Linked DNA regions of Homo sapiens. The protein of the gene in region 1 interacts with the protein of each later gene in a biochemical or structural test. Each region holds a gene or a part of one and is shown on either strand. Other genes may lie near its edges.

The links. The genes of interacting proteins can lie anywhere in the genome.
Region 2: the proteins of TPP1 (region 1) and TERT form a complex in vitro, tested with the Homo sapiens proteins (2 studies listed by BioGRID and IntAct).

What each region holds. Positions count from the first base shown.
Region 1 is NC_000011.10:6,612,268-6,616,422, forward strand, and holds the end of TPP1 (tripeptidyl-peptidase 1 preproprotein), read right to left. Parts: coding exon 4,048-4,155; intron 3,808-4,047; coding exon 3,738-3,807; intron 3,296-3,737; coding exon 3,175-3,295; intron 3,063-3,174; coding exon 2,904-3,062; intron 2,725-2,903; coding exon 2,599-2,724; intron 2,420-2,598; coding exon 2,279-2,419; 3' UTR 501-2,278; downstream 1-500. UniProt on the Homo sapiens protein: Lysosomal serine protease with tripeptidyl-peptidase I activity. May act as a non-specific lysosomal peptidase which generates tripeptides from the breakdown products produced by lysosomal proteinases. Requires substrates with an unsubstituted N-terminus.
Region 2 is NC_000005.10:1,281,569-1,285,068, forward strand, and holds part of TERT (telomerase reverse transcriptase), read right to left. Parts: intron 1,057-3,500; coding exon 861-1,056; intron 1-860. UniProt on the Homo sapiens protein: Telomerase is a ribonucleoprotein enzyme essential for the replication of chromosome termini in most eukaryotes. Active in progenitor and cancer cells. Inactive, or very low activity, in normal somatic cells.

The sequences.
Region 1 (4,155 bases):
GCCCACGACTCGCCCCGCCTGTCTCTGTTAGTGCTCTCCAGCCCGCTCCCCGCCTCCTCCCATAGTGGATCTGCGGGTTAGAGGAAATAGGCTGCAGGGCGGAGACCGAGCCTTGGCGAACTGCGCTGCCGTAGCCATTCCGCCCTAGCCTCTGCCGTGCTCCGCGGCGATTCCGTCCAGACCGGAACCAGCGTGCGTCTGGCTCTCCTCCGCCGCTCTGGGACACCTCATTCTGTCTGACGCTCAAGACCTGGCTTCGACGTTTATGGCCCTATGTCCCTCGACTACGGGTTGCCTGCCTGTCTGCATCGTTTCAAGTTCCCTTATTCAGCCTTTTAAGGATTCATAGTGGATTTGGAAAGCCCCCTCTCTTCTCCGCCAGCTGCCCCGAGAGGTGGGGGCAGCAGTGGGGCGGCACACAGTGCTGCTGTAGGAGGAGGAGGAGTTTCAGCCTGAGTCAACAACATATGCAAAAATCACAACGAATGAGAGGCGTGAGGTTTTCGGTGTAGCAGACATTTAATTCTTATTTGCCAACTCCTGAGCTAGGACCTGGGAACACAAAGTTAAATAGGACACGATTCTAGTCCTCTAGGCACCAACGGTCTTGGAAAGGAAGGCAGACAAGTAAACTGGCCATTTCAATACTACGTGGTCGTTACAATGCTAGAGGTAGGCACAGGGGGCGCAGTGCAAGGGAGGAAGGGCGTTAACATCTGCCACCTACTTCCAGGTGCCAAGCACTGTTATCAACATTATTCCACTTTATTCCCTGGTGATTATGAAAGGCAGGTATTGATATTCACACTTAACAGACGAGGAAACAGCCTCAGGGAGATAAGCTTACTTGACCCAGTCTCTCTCCTAGTCCATATCAGAACCAAGATTCAAACAGGTTTTGTTTAGAAAATCTAGGATTTTTCAGCCATACCAAAATAAAGTAGCCTCAGGGAATCAAAACATTCACGAAAGAAGGTGACTTCTGAACTGAGTCTTGCAAGAATTCTGGAAATTAACCTGGCAGTTGTATCAGGGGTGGTAAGGGGACGGAACAGCTTGAGCAAGAGTGAGAGTTCCTTGGGGTTTGGGGAGGGAGGAGGAAAAATGATTTTTTACTTAAGAACAAATAGCAAGGAAGGTTTGTGAGCTATGATTGGGGGCTGGAGGGGAAAGCCTGAATTCTATCCAGTAATCCTTGAAGGGTTTTCATCCAAGTGGCCTGATGGGATTTGCATTTTACTCTGGAAGATGACTTGGGGATTGGCAGGAAGTAAGGACACTTTTTTTCAAGAGAATATAGCCCTAAACTAAGGTAGTAGCAGTGGGGATATAAGTGGATAAGTTCTAGATATACTTGGGAAATATAATTGGAAGGACTTGTGGACTGATAAAGATATATTTAAGATGTGCAGTCAGTAGGACTTGTTGATTGAGGACTTGTTGATTGAAGGTGGGGTGAAAAGATGACACAGGTTTCTGGCTTGGTTGGAAAAAGCATAGCATCATTTACCAAGAAGAAACGAGATGGAATTGTTTGGGGTTGGGAAGGTGGACGATGAAATGTTGAGTATCACGCATCTTACATTTGAGGTATCAATCATTATTGGATAGAAAGTCTTATTTAGTGAGATGGTAATGGTTGTAGATGTCAGTGATTTGTTCCAGGGGACAATGAGTAAACTGAGAAGAGCAAAAATCTACAAATGGAGCAATGAAGGTCAGCATTCCATGAAGAAGCAGAAATTGATGAGAGAGGAAGACAAGAGTAGTCAGAGAAGTTAAGACCTGGAAGCTAAGTAAGGAGAGGGAGTGGGCAACTATGATGGAAAGGCCATAAAGCAAAGATTGAGAAGTATGCACTGGAGGCCATTGTTTCTGGATGTCAGGGTAGGAAAGAGTAAACGGTGACAGTAGAGGTCTCCTTGCAGTGAATTGGGGAATGAATATCAAGTGAAATAGTGCACAGAGTCTGTATACAACCCTTTGGAAAAGCCTGATTGAAAAGAGAAAGATGAGATGCGGAGGGAGAGGCATTCAAAAAATGCTAGTTACAGCATCTTATTGAGGAATCTAAGGCAGGAGTAGGGAGACCTGAGTATGATGGAGCATGGTAGGGTTGGGAGTCAAGTCAAGCTCACAGCATTTCAGGGTTAGGGAGATAAGCTGTCTGCAGCAGTCAATAGTTGAGGGTTCAGCAGGGCTTCCAACAGGGCAGAATAAGGGACTGAACTGCCAGCTTCAGGGCAGGGGACAAGCCATCTCTCCTGATAGGAAAGGGTCAGGGGTTGAGTAGAGTCTTCAGCAAAGCTGGGAAGTTGGGTGTTCCCCAGCCTGTTACAGGATCCCAGCCAGGACCAGAGCAGAAACCCTGGCCCTCTACCTCTTCATCCAGACAGGACTCATGGCAGCCACGGGTTACCTAGGGAGGAGGCTGGCATCAGATCTGGGCCTACTAGTACCAGTACTTAAAGAGTATATCTCCTCACCCTGTACTCACATTTCAAAGGCTATTCCACACCACCCTAACTGCCCCCAAGTCCCCCTTAGCACTCCCCATAGTTGTTTGAAAACGTCCACACCCTTCCCTTCCATACTTACATCAAAGAGTCCTGCCCCATGCTGCTGGTAGAGCCTTGGGTTGAGAAAGCCAAGAGGGGGGCGGCCACTAAGGATCCTGTGCTCATTGATCAAGGATAGGATCCCCCCAAACACTGGAGTAGAGGCCTACAAGAGTGAAGGTGCAAGTAGAGGTCAGGGGTTCTGAGTGATTGGACTTTTTGGGAGTGATGCTTTAAAGTATCAGACATCTCTAAGGAGTCAGGGGTTCTAGGTGCAAGGTGTTCAAGGTGTTAGGGGGTAAGGGTAGTTCCTGAGTGAGAGTTTGGAGATGGGCTGATTCTCACCGAGGTTCCGGACACCCATGGAATGGGCACTCTGTTGCTGACCACCCAGTAGCCATCAGAAAGTGCAGCCACATCTGGGTAGGCACGGCCACTGGCATTGAAGTAACTGGATGGTGGCAGGTGGGGGCTAGAGCTCAGGAACTTCGTTACAGCTTCCTCCTGAAAGGCATTTTTGAGTGAGTATTGGCATGTGGCCTGCCCAGCAGTCAGCTGAACTGAGGATCCCCCATCCTCACTCTTACCCTGCATCCATCCACACAAACACACGTACCTGGTATGAAGGCCGTGGGAACACATTGCTGAAGCCACCACCACTGATATAGTCAACAATTTCATTTGTGATGAGGAAAGGTTCCTGGAAGGATGTGCCTCCCACTGTGGTGACATAGGGGCTGAGGGGAGAAGACAGCATTTGGATAGTAGGGGACCCAAGGGGACCTCCAAGATATGTGGGGAGGGGTGAGTATAGCCCAGGTCTTGCTGGAGGAACTAGACTCTGTGGGGAAGCATGTATATGGGATTGACTAAGAGATTTTGAGCCTTCAAGGCATGGCCCGAGGTGACTGTGCACACTTTTCTCTACAGAACACCCACCAAATCTTCCACTAAAATGCCTGGGAACTGACGAAAAGGAACAATGGGAGCTGTATCCCACACAAGAGATTTGGGGCCTGGGACCTGCAGGAAGAAGAGACAGGAGTACAGCAACCAGGGCAGGCAAAGCTTAAGGCTGAACCACAGGAGCACATGGTGGGGTCAAGACAAAGGTTCTACATCATGAGATCACAAGTGAAAGGTGGTGGTTATACCTGAGTGGTAGGCTAGAGTACTTACCTGGAGGCAGGGAAGGTAGGGCGGAACTGGTGTCTTCCAGAGACAGACCAACACCCGGCCCCACTGTCACCTGAGAGAGACCAAGTGTAGCATTCATATTAATTGGTTAGGGCTTAGTATGTGGGTTCGGATGTCAGAGGGGAAATTTGTTACTGTAGGAGGTCAGAGTGTAGAGGTCAGGTCAGTGGTCCCTACTGGAAGGTCTGAGTTCAGATTATGAGTCAGAGACCAGGCTCAGGGATCACTGTGGAGTCAAAGCTCCCAGGCTGCAGAGGTGTAAGCATTGTCTAAGTTTAGGGTAGGAGGTCACCTGAGGCGAAGAGCAGGGTGAGACCCCGAGCGGCAGCCTTCATGAGCTCAGTGTTGACCCGCTGGATGTAGGCGCTGCTGAGGGAGTCCTCATCATCTCCATAGCTCA
Region 2 (3,500 bases), on another chromosome or scaffold:
TTGAATCTGTCACAATCTCACACTCTCATCAGCCGAACATTGCAGACAAAATCTCACAGCCATTCAAATGCAGCCACCTAGAAGTTAGCTCATGGTGGAACTCTCCTATCCCCAGGTGCTCCCTGCACAGGTGCTCCCTGCAGTGAGTCGCCAAGTGGGTGGGATTTTATCCTCTCATGACCTAAATCCAATAGATTGAAGATTCATACAGAACAGCATGAATTAAAAGAGAATCGGGGGCTGGGCACGGTGGCTTAGCCTGTAAACCCAGCACTTTGGGAGGCCAAGGTGGGTGGATCACCTGAGGTCATGAGTTCGAGACCAGCCTGGCCAACATGGTGAAACCCCGTCTCTCCTAAAAGTACAAAAATTAGCCAGGCGTGGTGGCAGGTGCCTGTAATCCCAGCTACTTAGGAGGCTGAGGCTGGTGAATCGCTTAAACCCAGGAGGTGGAGGTTGCAGTGAGCCAAGATTATGCCACTGCACTCCAGCCTGGGCAACAGAGTGAGACTCCATCTCAAAAAAGAAAAAAAAAAGAGAGAGAGAATCAGACCCACATCCCAGGGAAAGGCAAGGAGGCTAGTGGTAGTGTTTCCATCTAATTTAAATCCCTTCTGCTTTACAAACCCTAGAGACCACTTGGCACAAACTCCTGATTTTACAAGTAAGAGAACGTGAGCTCCAGGCAGTCAGAGCCTTGCACAGAATCCACTTGGACCAGGCCTGTGACGGGGCCCCTGGCTCCCAGCCCAGAGCTGCACAGCCAGGGAAGCACAGGCAAGTGGAGACAGGCGCATGCTGAGGCCGGGCTGGTGTTCCAGGACTTCGAGAAGCAGAGGCCTGGCGTGGGGATACAGTACCTGATTCCAATGCTTTGCAACTTGCTCCAGACACTCTTCCGGTAGAAAAAGAGCCTGTTCTTTTGAAACGTGGTCTCCGTGACATAAAAGAAAGACCTGAGCAGCTCGACGACGTACACACTCATCAGCCAGTGCAGGAACTTGGCCAGGATCTCCTCACGCAGACGGTGCTCTGCGGCCGGAACACAGCCAACCCCTTAAACGAGAAGGACATGCCACATCCAGATCACCGAGGGCCTGGTGACCTCACCCCGGACCTGCACCATCCGGACACCGCACATCCAGCTCACCAAGGGCCTGGCGACCTCACCCCAGACCTGCACCATCCGGACACGGCACATCCAGCCCACCAAGGGCCTGGCGACCTCACCCTGGACCTGCACCATTCGGACACGGGGACACCGCATATCCAGCTCACCGAGGGCCTGGCGAACTCACCCCGGACCTGCAGCATCCAGACACCACACATCCAGCTCACCGCAGGGCCTGGCGAACTCACCCCGGACCTGCACCATCCAGACAACACACATACAGCCCACCGCAGGGCCTGGCGACCTCACTCCGGACCTGCACCATCCGTACACTGCACATCCAGCTCACCGCAGGGCCTGGCGACCTCACGCCAGACCTGCACCATCCGGATACAGCACATCCAGCTCACCGCAGGGCCTGGCGACCTCACCCCGGACCTGCACCATCCGGATACAGCACATCCAGCTCACAGCAGGGCCTGGCGACCTCACCCCAGACCTGCACCATCCGGACACCACACATCCAGCTAACCGCAGGGCCTGGTGACCTCACCCCGGACCTGCACCATCCGACACCGCATATCCAGCTAACCGCAGGGCCTGGCGACCTCACGCCAGACCTGCACCATCCGGATACAGCACATCCAGCTCACTGCAGGGCCTGGCGACCTCACCCCGGACCTGCACCATCTGGATACAGCACATCCAGCTCACAGCAGGGCCTGGCGACCTCACCCCGGACCTGCACCATCCAGACACCGCACATCCAGCTAACCGCAGGGCCTGGTGACCTCACCCCGGACCTGCACCATCCGGACACCGCATATCCAGCTAACCGCAGGGCCTGGCGACCTCACCCCGGACCTGCACCATCCGGACACCCCACATCCAGCTCACCGAAGGCCTTGGCTACCTCACCCCGGACCTGCACCATCCAGACACCGCACATCCAGCTCACAGCAGGGCCTGGCGACCTCACGCCGGACCTGCACCATCCGGACACCACACATCCAGCCCACCAAGGGCCTGGCGACCTCACCCCAGACATGCACCATGCAGACACCGCACATCCAGCTCACCAAAGGCCTGGCGACCTCACCCCAGACCTGCACCATCCGGACACGGCACATCCAGCCCACCAAGGGCCTAGCGACCTCACCCTGGACCTGCACCATCCGGACACGGGGACACCGCACATCCAGCTCACCGAGGGCCTGGCGAACTCACCCCGGACCTGCAGCAACCGGACACTGCACAACCAGCTCACCGCAGGGCCTGGTGACCTCACCCCAGACCTGCACCATCCGGATACAGCACATCCAGCTCACAGCAGGGCCTGGCGACCTCACCCCGGACCTGCACCATCCGGATACAGCACATCCAGCTCACAGCAGGGCCTGGCAACCTCACCCCGGACCTGCATCATCCGGACTCCATACCTCCAGCTCACCGAGGGCCTGGCGACCACACCCCAGACCTGCACCATCCAGACGCCGCACATCCAGCTCACAGCAGGGCCTGGCGACCTCACCCCGGACCTGCATCATCCGGACTCCATACCTCCAGCTCACCGAGGGCCTGGCGACCACACCCCAGACCTGCACCATCCAGACGCCGCACATCCAGCTCACAGCAGGGCCTGGCGACCTCACCCCGGACCTGCATCATCCGGACTCCATACCTCCAGCTCACCGAGGGCCTGGAGACCTCACCCCTGACCTGCACCATCCGGACACCGCATATCCAGCTCACAGCAGGGTCTGGCGACCTCACCCCGGACCGGCACCATCCGGACTCCATACATCCAGCTCACCGAGGGCCTGGCGACCTCACTCCAGACCTGCACCATCCAGACACCGCACATCCAGCTCACCGCAGGGTCTGGCGACCTCACCCCGGACCTGCACCATCTGGACACTGCACATCCAGCTCACCGAGGGCCTGGCGACCTCACTCCAGACCTGCACCATCCAGACACCACACATCCAGCTCACAGCAGGGCCTGGCGACCTCACCCCAGACCTGCACCATCCAGACACCACACATCCAGCTCACAGCAGGGCCTGGTGACCTCACACCGGACCTGCAGCATCCGGACACCCCACATCCAACTCACAGCAGGGCCTGGCAACCTCACCCCAGACCTGCACCATCCGGACACCGCATATCCAGCTCACCGCACGGTCTGGCACCGTCTGGCGACCTCACTCCAGACCTGCACCATCCAGACACCGCACACCCAGCTCACCGCAGGGCCTGGTGACCTCACCCCAGACCTGCACCATCCAGACACCACACATCCAGCTCACAGCAGGGCCTGGCGACCTCACCCCGGACCTGCATCATCCGGACTCCATACCTCCAGCTCACCGAGGGCCTGGAGACCTCA